3 separate regions of the Homo sapiens genome follow, and regions 1 and 3 are each linked to region 2. The links come from fine-mapping of genetic effects on gene expression. A gene starts in region 2. Each other region holds a variant in brackets. All regions are shown on one strand. Distances are between the middles of the regions.

Evidence for each region. PIP is the estimated chance that this variant, and not a neighbour inherited with it, causes the effect.
Region 1: its variant is fine-mapped to the expression of CES2 in esophagus mucosa (GTEx, PIP above 0.99).
Region 3: its variant is fine-mapped to the expression of CES2 in thyroid (GTEx, PIP above 0.99).

Annotation. Positions count from the first base shown.
Region 1 is chr16:66,904,348-66,907,191 of GRCh38, reverse strand. LOC107984821 (a long non-coding RNA gene) reads left to right here and starts at 1,932. Exons shown (of 3, transcript XR_001752244.2): 1 at 1,932-2,101. RefSeq lists an enhancer at 1,535-2,844. The variant G/A (reference allele first, on the strand shown) is at 1,357.
Region 2 is chr16:66,933,640-66,936,463 of GRCh38, reverse strand. It overlaps CES2 (carboxylesterase 2), which reads right to left and starts at 948. Exons shown (of 12, transcript NM_001365405.1): 1 at 753-948. The coding sequence starts at 828. CIAO2B (cytosolic iron-sulfur assembly component 2B) reads left to right here and starts at 2,062. Exons shown (of 5, transcript NM_016062.4): 1 at 2,062-2,241; 2 at 2,398-2,477; 3 at 2,725-2,824. The coding sequence starts at 2,100. RefSeq lists enhancers at 726-1,338, 2,177-2,376, 2,407-2,456.
Region 3 is chr16:66,993,009-66,995,508 of GRCh38, reverse strand. The region is part of intron 1 of CES4A (carboxylesterase 4A); the gene reads right to left. Among named protein-coding and RNA genes, the nearest start is that of CES4A, 5.7 kb to the right of the region's middle. The variant T/C (reference allele first, on the strand shown) is at 1,404.

The sequences.
Region 1 (2,844 bases), 29 kb after region 2:
TATTTTTAGGAGATAATCTCTCCACTATTGGCAGATTCTGTGGGATAGGGGCCAAGCCCAGCTAAGAGAGACAGGGCGGGCAACCTGGCAAAGACTCAGCCAGGATCCCCAGCCCAGGGGTTGGACTCTGAGGCTGGCCCCTGTCATCCTGGCTCAGGTACCCCCACTGGAGGCTCTGCTGGCTACCCTCATCCAGGCAGGGATTCCCTGCCCCTCTGCCAGGATATCCTCTGCTCAGCCTGCATGCACTCAGAAGTCTTCAGGGTGCAAATCTTCTGGAGGTAGTGTCTCATCTAATCTTCCTATCAACCTACGAGGGTGGATTATTGGCCCCATTTTGCAGTGGAGGATCTTGAAGATCAGGGAGGTTAAGGGCCGTAGCTGGGAGTCTTAGAACCACGGTACATGGCATAACTATCTGTCCAAGGTCCGTGTTACCTCTCTGGAAATGTCCACAGCGTTCAGGTGGTCTCTGCTCCCTCAAGATTTCCCAGCAGGGCCTTAGAGATCACCCAGATCAGCTCTTTCTTGTAAAGATGGAAAGGTGAATTGCAAAGAGAAGGAGGGAAATTTCTAGGTTCATACAGCCATAAGATGCGTCACTTGAGCTATAACCACCACTTTCTGGCCCTTATCCTAGATGGATAAGTAGGGAGATAGGAGGGTGCATGGGTGAATGAATAAGTGGATGGCTAGGCAGATGCATGGCTGGATGGATTGGTGGGTAGATGGATGGGTGGGTTGGTAATCGGGTGGATGGGAGACCCACAGACGAAAGGGTGGATGACAGGATACCAGGGCAAATGAAGGCATCTGCTCTAGTTTGAGGGCTTCTTCCTCGGGCCTCCAGGCCCCGGACCACTCTTGGTTGTCACTGCTGGAGCTGACCGCCAGGTCCACAAGCCCCTTCTCCACAGACAAGGGCCCAGGTTCCTTGGGCATCTGGGGACATAAAACTCTCCTGTATCCTCAGCCCCATTCTGCAGAGGAAGGTGGCCAGGTGCGGTGGCTCATGCCTGTAATCCTGGCACTTTGGGAGGCCAGGGTGAGAGGATTGCTTGAAGCCAGGAGTTCAAGGCCAGCCTAGGCAACAAAGTGAAACTCTGTCTCTACATAAACAGAAAGAGAGAAAGGTGAGGATCAGAGAGGGGGTGTGGCTTATCCTGGGTCGCAGAGGAAGAGAGACACAAAGCTGATTGGTCTCTAGGCTTGGCAGTGGGCCAGTGAATGCCTGTAGAGATTAATGCTAGTGAGGCAGGCTTCATTCTGTAGGCAGGGCCTCGCCCCTGCTAGAGCAAGGTGGGGGCCAACCAATAGCTCTATGGGTAGAAGAGCATGTGTTGTGCTTATCCATGC[G/A]ATGTGTTCCCAGGAAAACTGCTTCACCTCTCAGAGCCTTGGCTTACTTGGTGATACAAGTTTTTGTCGTTAGGAAAACTACATGAGATAATCCCTGCACAATGCATTTAGCACAGTGCCAGGCACTGCAGGGCTCAGTAAATGTGACTTTCCCCAGTGCATGGATTGTTGAGGGACCTACATCCCCGCACTTACACACACTCCCTAGAGGTCCCAAGAGGCCCAGGCTTTTGGGAGGGAGTTTGGAGAGGGGCCCCAGCTCCAGCCCCAAAGCAAGAGTGCAAGACACCCCTTCCAGCCCCAGCTCCCTTCCAGTGCCCAGGTGCTCTTAGGGTCTGTGATGTCCAGGGTCTCACAGGGTTCTGGGCTGGAGCTGGAGGGGGTTGAGGGGTGGGCCCCAGCAGAGGCCTCATGCTCCCCTTCTCCCAGGCCCCTTCCAGAGGCACTGGGCCAGATCAAAGGGACCCAGCACGGAGGATCAGGAGGCAGCTTGGAAAGAATGTAAACATGAGGATATTTTTAAACTTTTTCCAGCCCCAGCGATTAGGGCTCTTGAAGCCGGAGGCCCAGAGGTCAGTCTGGCCCTCACCCACAAAGAAAGCAACAGTCTCGGGCCCTCAGAGACCCCACCCCACCCACATCTACCTACACCCACCCAGGACTCTAGCTGGGGCCTCGGGGCAGAAGTTCTTCCTAGGGTGTCACCTCCAGACACACTGCTGCGGCGGGAGGATGCGTTTCTAATGTGAGGGCCTCAGCGGCATGGGACCCTGACTTAAGGGGTGGTGGGGGCCTACCAGACAGGGCTGATGTTGGAAGACTGAGCTTGGGAGGCTTCTTAGTGGCCCAGTCACTCTACCAGGCGTGTGTGCACACGTGTGTCTGTGGGTGTATAAGTATATGCTGCAGTCTGGTCTGTGTGATGCACGCATCGGAATGTGTGAGTGTGCGAGGAGCTTGCCTCGGCCCACCCTTCCTCGTTCTTCCCTAGCATCCCTGACCTCCTCCCTGGGACCCCTTTGGTAGGTGGGTGACATGGGGGGGGTACAAAAGAGGAAGAGTCGCCTGAGAACAGGGAGGACGCGAGGAGAGAAAGGCGCCAGAGCCGGGGGCGAGGAGGCTGGGGGTACCAGGTCCGGGGCCATGCAATGAGTCAGGCTGTGAGAGCTGCAGGAGTCACTGATGTGGGGACTGGGACTCGGCTCCCTCCATCACCCCCATGTGTCACAGTTGGAGATGAGGCTCCCTGGATCTCCCGATTCCGGTGTCACAACTACGCTCACCATGGGTTCCATGACAACAGCCTCTTACCTTGTAGTCACGCAGCTACCCTCACACCCTCACAGGAGTGTCACAGGACTCATGCAGGGCCCCCCCAACACCACCCAGTGGTCGTATCCCAGTGACCCCTATCTGTGAGACATGAGGACCCTCACTGTCTTCACATCCCCACTGACCAGAAAGCCAGAATTCACAGGGGCACTCAGA
Region 2 (2,824 bases):
AGCCTCAACCTCCCCTACTAAAGTGATCTCCCACCTCAGCCTCCCAAGTAGCTGGGACTACAGGTCACAGACCACCACAGCCCACTAATTTCTTTCAATTTTTTGTACACTCCGAGTCTCACTATGTTGTCCAGGCTGGCCTCCAACTCCTGGGCACAAGCGATACTCTCCCTTGGCCTTCTAAAGTGGTGGGATTAAAGGAGTGAGCCAATCGCACCCAGCCACTGTGGCCTCTTAGATCTGCTTTAGGATTTGGCGCCTGGGGGCTTCTGTTCCCCAAGGACCACTATCCTTGTCTGAGGCCCCTTTGGAGGGCTCAGGGCATCCCCCCTGGCCAAGGACGCCACACACTGAGAGCCAGATGCTGCCAGAAGCTATTACTGTTATTACCGGCCGGCAGCACCCGCTACAGCCACAATCATAAGAGGGAAATGGACTGAATCCCCACACCCCAATCCCTCACCCACTCCGACCCCAGGCTGCCTACCCGGCCTGGCATGTCCCGGCGCTCCTGGGGCCCCTGTACTCCGCTGGTTCCTTGCCGTGGTGTCCCCCAGCCCGACCCTTTCTGTGCTTCTAGGAGCCCACCTTGGGCGGCGGGGAGGCGTTGCGTGGGGCTCACGAGTTCCACGCTGTCATCTCCACCAGCTCCTACCTCCCAGGCGCCTGCCCTCCCGCACTGTCAGGTTCTGCCTCCGCAGCATTTGGCAGATCTGAGCCCGGTCCCTGTCGCCCCTCCGAGGGAGCCTCACCCTGGCCCCGGACAAGAAGCAGCAGAAGCCCACAGGCCACCGCGCTCAGCCGCGCACGAAGTCTGTGCAGCCGCATGGTCGGCTCGCTGGTCTCGGTTCGCTGCCGGCGGACACGCTGCTGTTCACCCAGAGGCTGCCCCGGGTCTGTCCAGCAGTGGATCAGTGCCTTGCCCAGCCTTGGAGTTTGGACTGGGCAGGGAGTCAGCGGGGTGCGCTGGCTTGGGCCGGGAAAGGTGGGTGTGGTAGGAGAGCGGGACTGAGCAGTCATAGGTGGGTGGGGATCTAGTGGTAGGCAGGCCCGGGCACGGCCACTTTCCTTTGCCCGGGCTCCTTTGGCATCCTCGGAAGGGGCTGTGCCATTCCTGCAGCCCTTCCGCGATCCAGGGAATCCTCTCTTCAAACCTGTCCTTGTCCACAGGCCCGATGAGCGCGCTGGGGGATCGATAGGAGGGGGCAATAAACTAGAATTGGAGACCCCAGGAGGGCTTCTCTGAGGATGTGCACGTTCAGGATCCCCCAGATGGAGAAATGGGAAGGAACTTGATCGGGGTGAAGGAACCGCTTGAGCAAAGGCAGGAAGGAGTGTCGGCGCCCTTCATTCTGGAAGTTCCTCCTTGCTTTCAGGACTCAGTTTCCTGGGTTCCCCTTCACGGCCCCTCATCTCCTTACAGTCCAGGGTCTGAGGGTCTCCGCGGTCCCCTCCCTACTCAGTCACGCCATTCTTTTGAAACGTACACGTGACCGCGGCACTTCTTAAGGAGCGCCCCCCTTTTCCTCGGTGGCTTTCAGTTTCCTCACCTCCCGCGGAGACCACGGCCATGGTCATTTATCCACTTGACAAACATTTCACGAGCCCCTGCCGGTCCAAGCTGTGGGGACGCCGTACTCCCGGGCCTATGGTGCAGCAGGGGAGGCAGGCGCGTCACCGGGAGGTCCCGAGACACTAGGATCCCTGCCAGGCCAGAGGCGACCAACCGTCCTGGATACGGGAGCTCCCGGCCAGCCTGACTTCCAGGAGGAAGCGGTGTGGGGATTACCTCCGACCGCCTTTAGTGCCCCCTGAGACCTGGTTCTGGCCTCTACGTTTCAGCCCGCTACTGGCTCGCACGACCCAGCGCCGCCGTGGTCCCTTCTCAGCGCCTTCTGCTCCAGCGACCATCATGTTCCCGGGTCCGAGCAGCCAGGGCCGCGGTCACCGCTTCTCTCGCACCTCAGGCCGAGAACCCACAACGCGGCGTGTCCCTCGCGCGACTCCGTCGCCACGCCACGCCCCCTTCCCGTTCTCCGGAAGTGCGCGGGTTGGAGCGGAAGCGCACGCCTGCTAGGATCAGCGGTGGTGGTTCCGCGATGGTAGGCGGCGGCGGGGTCGGCGGCGGCCTCCTGGAGAATGCCAACCCCCTCATCTACCAGCGCTCTGGGGAGCGGCCTGTGACGGCAGGCGAGGAGGACGAGCAGGTTCCCGACAGCATCGACGCACGCGAGATCTTCGATATCCGCCGCTGCTGGGCGCGGGCGGGTTCCGGGGGCTTGCGGTGGGGGGAGCAGTGATATCGAGCAGCTGGTGGAGCCGCATCCCAGCAGGGCGTTCCTGGCAGAGGGTTCTAAGTGGGCAAGGGCGCAGAGTCCCTTTTCCTTCACTTCCCACATCTGATTCGCTCCATCAATGACCCGGAGCATCCACTGACGCTAGAGGAGTTGAACGTAGTAGAGCAGGTGCGGGTTCAGGTGAGTCACTTCCGAGGGGAGCGAGTTGTTCCAGAGAGTCAGAAAGGTTTCTGTGCAGCAGGAGCTGGCGTGCTCTATGCTCACGAACACCGAAGGGTATCTTTGGGGAGGGAGATTGTTGTGCCTATTTTATGGGTGTTGAAACTGAGGCCCATAGAAGTTGGATGATTTGCCCAAAACAACAAACTAAGAAGAGGGACCTTGGGCTGAGGGTGGTTGACTCTTGACATCTCTCCTCCACAACCAGGTTAGCGACCCCGAGAGTACAGTGGCTGTGGCTTTCACACCAACCATTCCGCACTGCAGCATGGCCACCCTTATTGGTCTGTCCATCAAGGTCAAGCTTC
Region 3 (2,500 bases), 59 kb before region 2:
CACCCCTGCGCAGCCACTCAGCCACAAATGGGACCCTGGCCCATCTGTCATGGGAAGCAGTGGCTGCTTTTCATAACAATTGATCATAACCATTGTGTGTCTGTCCACTTCTTCTTGTGCTTCTCTCAGAATTTTTTCTCTCCTTTAACGTTTCGTTTATTTATTTATATTTATTTATTTATTTATTTATTTATTTTTTGAGATGGAGTCTTGCTCTGTCGCCCAGGCTGGAGTGCAGTGGCGCAATCTCGGCTCACTGCAAGCTCCGCCTCCCAGATTCACGCCATTCTCCTGCCTCAACCTCCAGAGCAGCTGGGACCACAGGCGCCCGCCACCACACCCGGCTAATTTTTGTATTTTTAGTAGAGGCGGTGTTTCACCATGCTAGCCAGGATGGTCTCGATCTCCTGACCTCGTGATCTGCCCGCCTTGGCCTCCCAAAGTGCTGGGATTACAGGTGTGAGCCACCACGCCCGGCCCTCATTTATTTATTTATTTATTTATTTAGATGGGGTCTTTCTCTATCGCCCAGGCTGGAGTGCAATAGCCCAATCTTGGCTCACTGCAACCTCCACCTTCCAGGTTCAAGTGATTCTCCTGCTCCAGCCTCCTGAGTAGCTGGGACTACAGACACACAGCACCGCGCCTGGCTAATTTTTTTTTTTTTTTGAGATGGAGTTTCGCTGTTTTTGCCCAGGCTGGAGTACAATGGCGTGATCTCGGCTCACCGCAACCTCTGCCTCCCGGGTTCAAGCCATTCTCCTGCCTCGGCCTCCCGAGTAGCTGGAATTATAGGCATGCACCACCATGCCTGGCTAATTTTGTATTTTTAGTAGAGATGGGGTTTCACCGTACTAGCCAGGATGGTCTCTATCTCCTGACCTCGTGATCCGCCCGCCTTGGCCTCCCAAAGTGCTGGGATTATAGGCATGAGCCACCGTGCCCGACCTCATTTAACATTTCAAATCCCTATCAGTAAGCATATAAAAGTTCATGTCGGCTGCGCGCGGTGGCTCACGCCTGTAATCCCAGCACTTCAGGAGGCCAAGGTGGGTGGATCACGAGGTCAGGAATGGTGAAACCCCGTCTCTACTAAAAATACAAAAATTAGCTGGGCGTGGTGACACACACCTGTAATACTGCTACTCAGGAGGCTGAGGCAGGAGAATTGCTTGAACCCAGGAGCGGAGGTTGCAGTGAGCCGAGATCGCGCCACTGCACTCCAGCCTGGGCAACAGAGTGAGACTCCATCTCAAAAAATAAATAAATAAATAAATAAATAAATAAATAAAAATTTATGTCTATTATATGGGCTATTTCTCTGCGTCATTTAATGGCAATAAATGCATTATTCATTTTGATTTCTGTTTGTCTGATATTAATATAGCTACACCTCTGTCCTT[T/C]TTTTGAGATGGAGTCTTGCTCTGTCGCCCAGGCTGGAGTGCAGTGGCACGATCTCGGCTCACTGCAAGCCCCACCTCCCAGGTTCATGCCATTCTCCTGCCTCAGCCTCCCGAGTAGCTGGGACTACAGGCACCCGCCACCATGCCCGGCTAATTTTTTGTATTTTTAGTAGAGACACGGTTTCACCATGTTAGCCAGAATGGTCTTGATCTCCTGAACTTGTGATCTGCCCGCCTCAGCCTCCCAAACTGCTGGGATTACAGGCATGAGCCACCGCGCCCGGCCTACGCCTCTGTTCTTGTTGTTAACATTAGCCCAGCATGTTTCTAGGAAGAAATCATACACGCATATATGCATTCTTACTCATATGCATACTCGCATCTAATACTCACATGTACATGCTAATTTATGATATAGGTACATGTGAGCACAGCTCATCTACAAAGGAACATGCAGAAAAAGGCCAGGCGCAGTGGCTCACGCCTATAATCCCAGCACTTTGGGAGGCCGAGGTGGGCAGATCACTTGAGGTCAGGAGTTCGAGACCAGCCTGGCCAACATGGTGAAACCCCTGTCTCTACTAAAAATACAAAAATTAGCCAGGCGTGGTGGCGGGCACCTGTAATCCCAGCTACTCGGGAGGCTGAGGCAGGAGAATCGCTTGAACCCGGGAGGCGGAGGTTGCAGTGAGCCGAGATTTTGCCACTGCACTCCAGCCTGGGTGACAAAGTGAGACTCCGTCTCAAAACAGACAAACAAACACTCCAAGAAACATGCAGAAACAGAAGAGTAAAATGCATGTCCATATACATACATACATATGCGTACAAGTGCAGTTGTACATAGGTGACAACAAATCTATCTACAGCATACTTATTACACGCACACACAAGCACACATACACAATGCAAGCAAACTTACACCATAGCCAGCTCTTGGCATAGATATGAAATAGGCCAAGTTGAATCCGACTTCCCGTGGATACTCTTTTCTTCCTCTTCCAGGCTGTCATCCTGCCCCACTCCTATTGCCAAGAGTCGTTGAAGCCTCACATCCAATGTCCCTTCCTGAAGTGCCCTTGTCTATTTGCCCCCTC